3 linked regions of the Homo sapiens genome follow. The protein of the gene in region 1 interacts with the protein of each later gene in a pairwise test. Each region holds a gene or a part of one and is shown in the gene's direction. Other genes may lie near its edges.

Region 1 (4,260 bases):
GCAAAGGGCGCGGCGAGCCCGGCGGCTCCCGGAACAAAGGACAGCAGAGCGCGCGGGGCCCGAAGGGGCGTCCGCCCTAGTGGGCGGCGGAGGGGGATGCGCGCGGAGAGGACCAGCGCGCACCGCCCCGGCCCGCCCCTCAAATCCTCCTTCCTTCTCTCTCGCACTCGGAGACGGTCCCTGGGAGATCCGGGAGGGGGCGCAGCTCGCCGTCCTCGCCGGCAAGTGCCGTCGCAACCTCCCTCTGCCGCCACCCCCACCCCGAGAAGCGCACAAAGAGCGGCCGGGCAGGGAGCGCTCACCTCCCGTCGGGGCGGGGCCGCGGGCGGGGCCGGCGCGCGCTCCGCAGCGCCCGCCTTAAAGGGCCCGCCCGCTCCTCGCGCGCACTGCGCATGCTCGGCCGCGGGGCACGGAGGGGAGGGATGGGAACAGCGGGCGCGCACGCCCGCGCCGCCCGCTGGCGCTGTGGCCTGCGTCCCCGCGGTGGCGGCGCGGCGCTCGTGCGCGTGTCAGAACCCGCAGGGTCTCGGCCCGGGCGCCGGGCGTGTGCTGGACACTGGTGCCATGCATTCCAGAGGTCGCCAGCGGCCGGGCGGGCCGAGCTCGCGCGGCAGCCAGCTTTTAGCTTTCCCATCCTCAGTTTCAGGGCCAGTTGGGCGAAGTGCTGCCCAAGGAGACAGAAATGCAGGCGCGGGCGCGCGCGCGCGCGGTTGCCAGTGTGGGCGGGCGTGTGCTTTTGTGTCTCGTGCGCTCCCGCGCAGGTGGACAACCCGCGCCGGGAGTCACTCTGCCCGTGCGCCCCAAGACCTGGAGTCCCGTTTTCCGTGTCGGAGGGCTCGGGTCGCCCTTTTGGGCGGACTACAGACTCTTCTCACAGAGGAAGCTTTGGCTCCACGGATGGTTTATTTGGAGCCACTAACGGGACTTCCTGAGGACCGCTCTTTTAGAGCCCGGCTCCAGGCATCAGAGTTGGGCGCGTTTTCTTTTCTCAGTCAGGCGAGGGAGGAGACTTAGGGACAATGATTGTCCTCGGCTGATAGGTACATCCAAGTGTCCCGAGCCTGCCAGTCCCGCATTAGACAACAAAGAGAGGCGTTAGCGGCGGCGGGGGAGGGGCGCGGCCGGGAGGAGGACGGGGCGGGCTGCGGCGAGCGCGGGGGTGGGGGGTGGCGCTCTCTCTCCGCTCGCTCAACCCGCGGCCTCCTCCCGCCCCCGGCCTGGCGCGCGCCAATCGCCTCCCCCAGCGATAGTGTCAGTAGCATTGTGGTGTCAGCTCCCGCCTGTGACGTTGCGCCTCCCTCGTCCCCCTCCGGAGTCGTCTGGCTGCAGAGGCTCAGTCAAGAGGCGGGGAGGAGAGGAGGAAAAAGCGCTGAGTGAGGGCGGGCGGGCGGGCGGGAGGGAGGGAGTGGAGGAGCCGGGGAGGGGCTCCTTAAAGAAACGCTTCTGTCGCTCGCCTGCTCGCTTTTCGCTCGGCATTGCGGCCAGCCAGCCGGGCACTCGGGGGGCACGCGCGGCCACCGCTAGAGCTCTGCCCCCACCCCACCCGCCAGCAGGTCTGGGGTGGGGACCCAGGTGGGGGCTCCTGCAGCCACTGCCCGGTGCGGACCGCACGGAGCGACCCACTCCTCCCAGCACCGAGGAAGAAGCAACGGAGCCCTCAGCAGGCGACCGGCCTCCCCGCCCCTGACCACCCGCTTCCCGGCTGCCTTTGTGGCCGCAGCTTCTCGCCGCCGAGCCGAGGGCCGGCGGGGGCGCGGCGCGCACGGCCGAGCGATGCCCAGCTCGCTGTTCGCAGACCTGGAGCGCAACGGCAGCGGCGGCGGCGGCGGCGGCAGCAGCGGAGGGGGAGAGACCCTGGATGACCAAAGAGCCCTGCAGCTCGCGCTCGACCAGCTCTCCCTGCTGGGGCTGGACAGTGACGAGGGCGCCTCTCTGTACGACAGCGAGCCGCGCAAGAAGAGCGTGAACATGACCGAGTGCGTGCCAGTACCCAGTTCTGAGCATGTCGCCGAGATCGTGGGGCGGCAAGGTAGGTCGAGGAGGGATGGGGAGGTGGGTGGGGGTGGTGTAGGGTCTCAGGCCACTGCCTCGAGGGGAAGGCGTGTTCAGTATCGGGATCCGCGGCGTGGGGTGCCTTGGGGAGAGAGGAAGAGCCGCGCGATGGGCCGGCGCCCCAGACAAAGAAAGTGCAGGCAGGCTGTCTCCCGGAGCCGCGCCGCTGCCCTGGCGGGATGCACTTTCTTCTGCTAAAATCACTGCCTTCTCCCCTAACGCCCCCCAACCAGCCCACCTCCAGAAAGACAATTTAAATGTAAGATGCTTGGGGGAGGGGGCCTTTGATCAGTCCTTTGGGAGGAGGAAGGAGGAGGAGTGAGCATAGGATGGGAGGAGGATTCTGGATTTCTGCAAAGCGGAATGGAGCCCAGAGGAGGAACAATGGGTCCCGGGACTCACACCCCACCCCCTACCCCCAGTCGACCAGCGCTGAGGCATCGCGACTTCAGCTGCCTTCCCCGAGCCCCTTCCCCGTGTCTTCAGAGCTGACGGCGCGCCCAGCTGGATCCCAGCGGCATCTCCCCAGATGACTTTTCTGGGATTCTCGGGTTTGGTTCGGGACGACTGCAGTCACTGGGGGAGGGCCAGGCAGCCAATGGGCTGTTCCTCGAGCGCCTCGCGGGTGGGATCCGCTGCCCAGCCCGTGGCGCGGCCCGAGGTCAGTGAGGGAGACGCCCCCTTTCCGCCCATCTCTTGTCCTGCCGTCTCGCTGTCCTGGACGCGGGCTGTCCCCGGTCCCCGCGGTTACCCCAGGATAATGGGCGTGTCTGTCTCTCTCTCCCACTCCCTCCTCCGCACCCTGGTTCGTAGGTTGTAAAATCAAAGCGCTGCGGGCGAAGACCAATACTTACATCAAGACCCCAGTTCGCGGGGAGGAGCCTGTCTTTGTTGTGACGGGCAGGAAGGAGGATGTGGCCATGGCTCGGAGGGAGATCATCTCTGCTGCCGAGCACTTCTCCATGATCCGCGCCTCCCGGAATAAGAACACGGCACTCAACGGCGCGGTGCCTGGGCCGCCCAACCTGCCCGGGCAGACCACCATCCAAGTGCGGGTACCCTACCGCGTGGTGGGGCTCGTGGTGGGGCCCAAAGGCGCCACAATCAAGCGCATCCAGCAGCAGACGCACACGTACATCGTGACGCCCAGCCGGGATAAGGAGCCGGTGTTCGAGGTGACCGGCATGCCAGAGAACGTGGATCGCGCTCGAGAGGAGATTGAGGCGCACATTGCTCTGCGTACCGGCGGCATCATTGAGCTCACAGACGAGAACGACTTCCACGCCAACGGCACCGATGTGGGCTTCGATCTGCATCATGGGTCCGGCGGGTCCGGCCCAGGCAGCCTCTGGAGCAAGCCCACCCCCAGCATCACGCCCACCCCCGGCCGCAAGCCTTTCTCTAGCTACCGCAACGACAGCTCCAGCTCGCTTGGCAGTGCTTCCACAGACTCTTATTTCGGCGGCGGGACCAGCAGCAGCGCAGCGGCTACCCAGCGCCTGGCGGACTACAGCCCCCCTAGCCCCGCCCTGAGCTTTGCGCACAACGGAAACAATAACAATAACGGCAATGGGTACACCTACACAGCGGGGGGAGAAGCCTCAGTGCCATCCCCCGACGGCTGCCCCGAGCTGCAGCCCACTTTTGACCCGGCTCCCGCTCCCCCACCTGGGGCACCACTTATCTGGGCCCAGTTCGAGCGGTCCCCGGGAGGCGGACCTGCAGCTCCGGTATCTTCTTCCTGCTCTTCTTCTGCATCTTCGTCTGCTTCTTCCTCCTCCGTGGTCTTCCCCGGGGGTGGCGCCAGTGCGCCCTCCAACGCCAACCTGGGGCTATTGGTGCACCGCCGGCTGCACCCTGGCACCAGCTGCCCGCGCCTGTCTCCACCCTTGCACATGGCCCCGGGGGCGGGAGAGCACCACCTGGCTCGCCGGGTGCGCAGCGACCCGGGTGGAGGAGGCCTGGCCTACGCCGCTTATGCCAACGGGCTGGGGGCACAGCTGCCTGGCTTGCAGCCGTCGGACACGTCGGGCTCCTCCTCTTCGTCCAGCTCCTCCTCCAGCTCTTCATCCTCTTCCTCCGGGCTTCGGCGTAAAGGCAGCCGCGACTGCTCCGTGTGCTTCGAGAGCGAAGTGATTGCCGCGCTGGTGCCCTGTGGCCACAACCTCTTCTGCATGGAGTGCGCCAATCGCATCTGTGAGAAGAGCG
Region 2 (4,015 bases), on another chromosome or scaffold:
AGCACACAGTAGATGCTCAAGAAATATATTGAGTACATGTCTTGGACTTTCCCCTCCCTAAATATTATCTGTCAAGTGGGCCTATTGGACTTGTTGACCTTGGAGGGCCCTGTCGGCTTGACCCACCAATTCGAAATGGTTGAGAAAGAGGTCTGTCTTTGTACCTTTTGCAGCCTGTTTTCCCAGTTCTTAGAACATTGGGGTGAGATCCAGAGATTTCAGAGATCCCCCTGGAACACGAGTGTTCTGTGACGAGTTCATGACCTTGGAGCCACCAACCATACCCCTCACCCGTTGTCCCCAGTTCTGGCCTTGCCGACCCACTGCGTGTTTCTTTGCTTCATGTGGGCTGTTCCCCGGGGAGGGAGCTCAGTGGAGAACAGAAAGAGGTGTGGGTGAGGGCTCCCCCTTGGTGGGGAGTGGGGCACAGGAGCCTCAGGCTCTGTTGACCATCAAAGAAGGGACTCGAGTGGGCAGGCCGCTCACTTGCTGTGGACCTTGGGCAAGTCTCTAACTCTCCCTGGGCCTTGGAAGTCAGGCCGAGGTGATCTCTGCCGCCCCCTCCCTGCCTGGGTTTTCACTCTTGTTCTGATCCCACTCTCTTCCGGGTGCCTCCCTTCCACTTCTCCGTAGCCTGTGGCTCCCCTCCCCACACCCGCCCTGGGCCCGGGTTAGGCTGGGGCGGGGGCGAGCTGCCCAGTCCAGAGACAAAGTCCAAGAGCCGCGAATGGGCTGGCGAGGGTCAACCGCGTGGCCTCTGCCAGGAAGCGCGCCGAGCGCCCGGGTGAGGAGGGCGTCAGCCAGGGCACAGCAGCTTTCTCGCCCAGCGAAGCCTGTGCGCCTTCCTCCCGCGCCTGCAGACAAGCGGAGCCCATGGGGGCCGTGGGCCCCACCTATCCCGACGTCTCCACTTGATCCAGAAGTTGTCCCAGTCCCCTTGGAGCATGAGCTGTTGCCTGGACAGCTGGGCTGTCGCCCAGGTTCTGCCACTGTCTAGCTGTGTAACCTTGAGCCAGTCCCTGCCCCTCTCTGGTCCTCAGTTTCCCCACCTGTAAAATGGGGGCACCGAGAACCCTCCTCCAGGACCTGCGGCGGGGCGGGGCGGCAGGGCGGGGGCCTCCCCGCCGCTCCCGCGCCCGCGGCTTGGGCTCCGCAGTGAGTGGGGAGCGGCGCCGGGGAAGGAGCGCTCCGCGGTCATGTGACGTCCCCCTCCCCGAACTGCGGCGGCGGCGAGCGCCGGCCGCATCTGAGCAGAGCTGCAGCGGCGGCCGCGGGCACCAGAGTGCCGAGCCCAGGACGCCCCCGGCCCAGGCCCTTGGGTGAGTGCGCCCCGCCAGGGCTGCGGCCCTGGAAAGGGGAAGGGGACAGAGGTGTCCAGACTCCCGTCGGCTCGCAGCGAAGACCCCGCGCGGGCGGGCGGGGACGGAGGGTGGGGGCGAACGCGTGGGGGACCCGGGTCTCCAGGGGCGAGGGGTGGGCGCAGCTGGGCTCGCGCAGCCCGGTCTTGACAGCAGCTGGAGAAGTGGGGGGAGGCCTGGACTGAGCCGGCTGAACCCCCAGCCTGTTGGACTTGGTCCAGGCCGCGGCCAGGGGGCTTTGGTCCCACCCCCCTGGGTGGGTGGGGAGTCCAGTTTTCCGCCCACCTCGAGGTGGGGGCGCCTGGGGTTTAGAGGAGGGACTGTGGGAAGTGGGCGCGTTTCCTCCATCCCTGGGGAGGGGCCCAAGCCCTAGCGCCCCCCAGAGGGTGGCGCTCCTGTCCTCAGAGGAGGGAAGTGGGGGCCTCAGATCAAGGACCCTGAGCGGGGAGGGCGGTGATGTCCTTGCATCCCCAGAGACAGGACGCATTCCCCTGTCCCTGACCCCCGCGGCAGAGCGGGGCACACGCGTCACGAAGTTGGGCGCCCCCTCGTCGCCTCCCCTGGCTCGGCAGGATCTGAGGACTCGGTGGGAATTCACGGGGCGGTTTCCGTGCCCTGCAGGGTTTGGTGCCAGCTGCGGGGCGCCTGGGCTTGGGGAAGAAACCTTGTGTACGCACACCTGCACACACACACAGTCTCCGGAGGTGAGCGGCCCCCTCCCTACCATAACAGACCCCAGCCTGTGCATGCCCTCGGAGTCCTTGTTGGGGTCATAGCACAGGCCCGGTGGTGGGGTCAGGAAGAACATCCACTGTTCTCAGGGCTCATTGGCCTCTGTCCCCGGGCTCCATTCCCCTCCCTGCCAAGTCAGAGGTCAGGCCCCTGGGGCGGCAGGCAGGAAGGACACTGAGGGAAGGGGCACTGAGGCAGGAGGGGCACTGAGGGAAGCTGGCCAGGTGGAAGTAGGAGAGAAAGGCAATGGGGGTGAGATGGTACCACTTCCTCCCCATATGAGGCTCTCAGGAGGCTCCTGGCCCCCCCTGCACAGGTAGTGGTCCCTCCTTCCTGAGGGTGTTTGGGGGAAAACGCTATGGTTGGGGCACTGGGGAAGGTTGCCTCGCAGATGAAACAGAACATTGGCCAAAGGTGTCCCTGAATGGGCTTCTGGACTGGCACAGGGCCCTGAGGGCTGTGGCTGAGTGGGGAGGCAGTGATCAGGTCCAGCTGGCCATGGGGGCCCCCCATTCCCTTCTCCATGACCTCAGCCTCACTCTGAGAGCCCCCAGCAGCTGGAAGGTCTGGTAAGGGGTGCGTGTTCCTTGATGGCCTTGGGAAGGGTTCCAGGGTAATGATTAATCCTCAGGTGGCACGAGCAATTTCCCCCTTCACAGCAATATTTCAGGGCAGGCGCTGAAGCCTCCATTGCACAGGTGAGGAAACTGAGGCTCGGAGAGGCTAAATGAACTGCCTGAGGTCACCTAGTCACCTTCAGCAAGGTCTAGAATCGTGGTACTCTGACTCTTGATGGGAGAAGATCTCCACAGCGGTGGAGAGGAGGAAGGGTGAACGCCGTGGTGGAGTGGTCCATGTGGACCTGCTCCCCTTTGCTGCCAGGAGGTGAGGGTGCCTGTGGCTGGAAGCTGGGTCAGGTTGAGGAGAGGGTCCAGAGTCCTAGGCTTGCCTTGCCACCCCTTCCCATGGAGGGAGGGTTGTCCCGTGGAGCACCATAATGGTGCTTTCACCCTGGGACCTTCCCAGCTTGCTTGGGCAAAGCCCTCTCCTCTTCTCTTCTTCCCAAGGTGCCTGCCTGGCAGGGGTCTCAGGAGGCCCCTCTCCTGGCTCTAACTACCTTCCACCCTTAGGAGACAAGAAGGATTCTTCCTTTGGCCTCTTGGAGGGCAGCAGGGAGAGAGGTCTCTGCCACTTAGGCCTCAGGCTCCCACAGCAGGGCCTCCACCTCCCTCTCACCTGGCCCTGCCCCTGCCCTGCTGTCAAATTCTGGGGCCAAGAGGCCCTTTGAGGACTCCTCGGGCAGATCTGTCCTCCATGCTGCCATCTGTCTACGGAGGCCTTTGTCCTGGCTGTCAGAGGCTGCTGAGCAGCCGCATGTGCTGTGCAAACAACCGAGACCTGAGCACGGCCAGACACAAACGCAAATACAGTTAGACTGACAGATACCCTGAGACCCAGACACAGGAACACACGGGCACACCCAGGCCAAGACCCCTGCCCCCGACTCTGCCTGACACACAAGCACTGAGAGTCACACCATCCAGATGCTGGCACGTGTGTACACACAGAGAGACGGAGGTTGTCAGCAAGGAGAAGAGCCTTTTCAGAAGCCCTCGTCTTCTGTCGTCTGCCTCCATTATCTCCTCCAGGGTGCACACATGGTACACGCGCATGCAGGAAGAACACGAGGATGCCCTACGCCCTTAAAAATGAACCTGGCAGACACGCACATGCACCCACCCACACCCAGGCCATCATGGGTGCACACACGCATGAATTACATCAGCTTCCTGCGTGTGGGATGTTAATGCTTCATCACCCGGGGAGGGGAGTGGAGGCCCCCGACCGTCCCCAGCAAAGCCTCCCCTTCCTCCCTCTTTTCTGATTCATGTGGACCCAGCTTGACTGGCCCCAAGAATCCTGGG
Region 3 (3,500 bases), on another chromosome or scaffold:
TTAGCCAGGCATGGTGGCACACACCTGTAATTTCAGCTACTCAGGAAGCTGAGGCAGGAGAATAACTTGAACCTAGGAGGTGGAGGTTGCAGTGAGCCAAGAATACACCAATGCACTCCAGCCTGGGCAACAGATAAGACTGTTTCAAAAAAAAAAATTTTTGTCAATGTTAAAGAAAAGCTAATATTGGCAGGAATGTGGTGAGACTGACATCCTGACATACACAAGCAGGACTGGGGATCAGTGTCGCCTTTCTGTAAAGCACTTTTGCAGTATAAATCAGGAGCCCTTGAAAGTTCAGAAGCTCTATTTTTGTAGTTCTTGTGCTAGATATCTTTCCCTAGAAGGTTAAAAAGAAAGAAAAAACGGGGAACGTTTTAAAAAAATAGCATTATTTATAATAATTAAAATCACTGGGCATGGTGGATCACGTTTGTAATCCCAGCACTTTGGGAGGCCAAGGCGGGTGAATCACTTGAGGTCAGGAGTTCGAGACCAGCCTGTCCAACATGCTGAAACCCCATCTCTACTAAAAATACAAAAATTAGCTGGGCGTGGTGGTGTGCACCTGTAGTCCCAGCTACTTGGGGGCTGAGGCAGGAGAATTGCTTGAACCCGGGAGGCGGAGATTGCAGTGAGCTAAGATAACGCCACTGCACTCCAGCCTGCATGACGGAGTGAGCCTCCGTCTCAATAAATAAACAAAAATTAGCTGGGTGTGGTTGTGGGCGCCTGTAATCCCAGCTACTTGAGAGGCTGAGCCATGAGAATTGCTTGAGCCTGGGAGGCAGAGGTTGCAGTGAGCCGGGATCACATCGCTGTACTCCAGCCTGGGTGACAGACTGAGACTCTGTCTCAATAATAATAATAATAATAATCACAGACAATTGATGTCCAGTGATATGGAAATGCTTAAGTGAATGATAATACATCCATACTAGATACTATGACATAATGCAGCCATAAATGTCTTAAAAAAAAAGACAGTCTCACTCTGTTGTCCAGACTGGAGTACAGTGGCATGATCACAGCTCACTGCAGCCTCAACCTCCTGGGTTCAAGCAGTCCTCCTGCCTTAGCCTTTCTAGCAATGGCAATGTCTCATATTTTTTTCATAATATAGATTGCTTAAGAAATAGTGTGACATAGGACAGGTGTGGTGGCTCATGCCTGTAATTCCAAGTACTTTGGGAGGCTAAGGCAGGAGGATCACTTGAGGCCAGGAATTTGAGACCTCATTTATACCAAAAAAAAAAAAAAAAAAAAAAGAAGCAGCAGCAGGTGTGGCACGTGCTTGTAGTCCTAGCTACTTGGAAGGCTGGGGCAGGAAGATCCCTCGTGTTCGGGAGCTTGAGTTTGCAGTGAACTATGATCATACCACTGCAATCCAGCCTGTGAGATCCTATCTCTGGAAAAAAAAAAAAGAGAGAAAGAAAAAGAAAAGAAAAAATAACATGAAGTAAAAACCAGTAACAAAAATTAAAAAGCAAATTCAGCAGCACATTCTTTTAGCAGCCAGTTACTCTTCAGGTGCTTTCCATACTAATAGTCATAACAGACTTGTGAGATAGGCCCTATTTATTGTCTGTTTTATAGATGAGGAAAATGGAGCAGGAACACAGCTACCTGAGGCTGCACAGCTCATTGGAGCCATTTATGTGATTGGAGCCCAGCACTTTGGCTTCAGAGTCCTTGTTCCTGACCATAACACTCTAGCAGAGCTGGTCAGGATTCAGAGTACCTGAAAGCATGATCCAATTTTGGTTGTCTCAAGATTGTTTCTTTTTCAAGTATATGAAAAAAGGGCAGTTGTGCTAGGGTATTGAGAGTGGTTTTTTCTGGTTTATAAGATTATGGGTAGTTATTACTTTTATAAGATAAAAAATATAAAGGATTTTAAAGCATGGACTAGAAAAGAGTAAGAAAATAGACTGAAAAATAAAAGTGTGATTGTATTGAGATTATTTTTACTTCTTTTAAGAAATATTTTCTATTATGTAGATAAATTCACTCTTATAAGAAAACTTTTAAATGAATTACTGATTACAAACCAGCCATCCTAGTAATTCTGGAAGCTGATGCTCGTGTTGATTTTTCCCCCCTTGGGACAGGGTCTCACTCTGTCACCCTGCTGGAGTGCAGTGGCGCGATGACAGCTCACTGCAGCCGCGACCTTCCGGGCTCAGGTGATCCTCCCACCTCAGCCTCCTGGGTAGCTGGGAGTACAGGCACATGCTACCATGCCCAGCTAATTTTTGTATTTTTTGTAGAGACAGAGTTTTGCCATGTTGCTCAGGCCAGTCTCAAACTCCTGGGCTCAAGCGATCCGCCCACCTTAGCCTCCTAAAGTGCTGGGATTGTAGGCGTGAGCCACCTCATCCGGCCCTCATGTCAGTTTTTACAGGAGATGGGGATGCTGCTGGGCTTTGATCCCTATGTATGTGCAAGCAAGGAAAGCTCAGAGACGCAGGAGGGCAGGAGGAAAACACTAGCCGTAGTTCTCTCTGGAGGGCAGGTTTTACACAATTACTCTTAGCTCTTTGGTTTTCAGGTTTCTCACCTTTCTGCATTAGACATTGATATAATATTTGAAGCATATGAAGTGTGCTTGAGTTATTTTTGTAAGGAAAAAAAGTGTTAAGAAACATTGCTTTAATGTTTTCTATATTTTCTCAAAAGTTCTAGGCTCAGAAACCTTATTACTCTTGTACTAGTTTCTTTTCTCTCTGCCTCCACAGGAAGGAAGAGGGAATGGTTTAAAATAGAAGACGCCATAAAAGTGCTGCAGTATCACAAACCCGTGCAGGCATCATATTTTGAAACATTGAGGCAAGGCTACTCAGCCAACAATGGCACCCCAGTCGTGGCCACCACATACTCGGTTTCTGCTCAGAGCTCGATGTCAGGCATCAGATGACTGAAGACTTCCTGTAAGAGAAATGGAAATTGGAAACTAGACTGAAGTGCAAATCTTCCCTCTCACCCTGGCTCTTTCCACTTCTCACAGGCCTCCTCTTTCAAATAAGGCATGGTGGGCAGCAAAGAAAGGGTGTATTGATAATGTTGCTGTTTGGTGTTAAGTGATGGGGCTTTTTCTTCTGTTTTTATTGAGGGTGGGGGTTGGGTGTGTAATTTGTAAGTACTTTTGTGCATGATCTGTCCCTCCCTCTTCCCACCCCTGCAGTCCTCTGAAGAGAGGCCAACAGCCTTCCCCTGCCTTGGATTCTGAAGTGTTCCTGTTTGTCTTATCCTGGCCCTGGCCAGACGTTTTCTTTGATTTTTAATTTTTTTTTTTTATTAAAAGATACCAGTATGAGATGAAAACTTCCAATAATTTGTCCTATAATGTGCTGTACAGTTCAGTAGAGTGGTCACTTTCACTGCAGTATACATTTATCTACACATTATATATCGGACATATAATATGTAAATAAATGACTTCTAGAAAGAGAAATTTGTTTAATTTTTCAAGGTTTTTTTCTCTTTTAATTTGGGCATTT

Evidence for each region. Proteins that work in one complex are often made in the same cells at the same time.
Region 2: the proteins of MEX3B (region 1) and RAP1GAP interact in a two-hybrid assay, tested with the Homo sapiens proteins (one large-scale study listed by BioGRID and IntAct).
Region 3: the proteins of MEX3B (region 1) and NUDT3 interact in a two-hybrid assay, tested with the Homo sapiens proteins (one large-scale study listed by BioGRID and IntAct).

The regions. Positions count from the first base shown.
Region 1 is NC_000015.10:82,043,219-82,047,478, reverse strand, and holds the start of MEX3B (RNA-binding protein MEX3B), read left to right. Parts: upstream 1-1,460; 5' UTR 1,461-1,773; coding exon 1,774-2,029; intron 2,030-2,865; coding exon 2,866-4,260.
Region 2 is NC_000001.11:21,666,558-21,670,572, reverse strand, and holds the start of RAP1GAP (rap1 GTPase-activating protein 1), read left to right. Parts: upstream 1-1,215; 5' UTR 1,216-1,319; intron 1,320-1,979; exon of another isoform or gene 1,980-2,062; intron 2,063-2,749; exon of another isoform or gene 2,750-2,975; intron 2,976-4,015. UniProt on the Homo sapiens protein: GTPase activator for the nuclear Ras-related regulatory protein RAP-1A (KREV-1), converting it to the putatively inactive GDP-bound state.
Region 3 is NC_000006.12:34,288,170-34,291,669, reverse strand, and holds part of NUDT3 (diphosphoinositol polyphosphate phosphohydrolase 1), read left to right. Parts: intron 1-2,738; coding exon 2,739-2,917; 3' UTR 2,918-3,500. Other genes in the region: RPS10-NUDT3 protein, read left to right, coding at 2,739-2,917. UniProt on the Homo sapiens protein: Cleaves a beta-phosphate from the diphosphate groups in PP-InsP5 (diphosphoinositol pentakisphosphate) and [PP]2-InsP4 (bisdiphosphoinositol tetrakisphosphate), suggesting that it may play a role in signal transduction.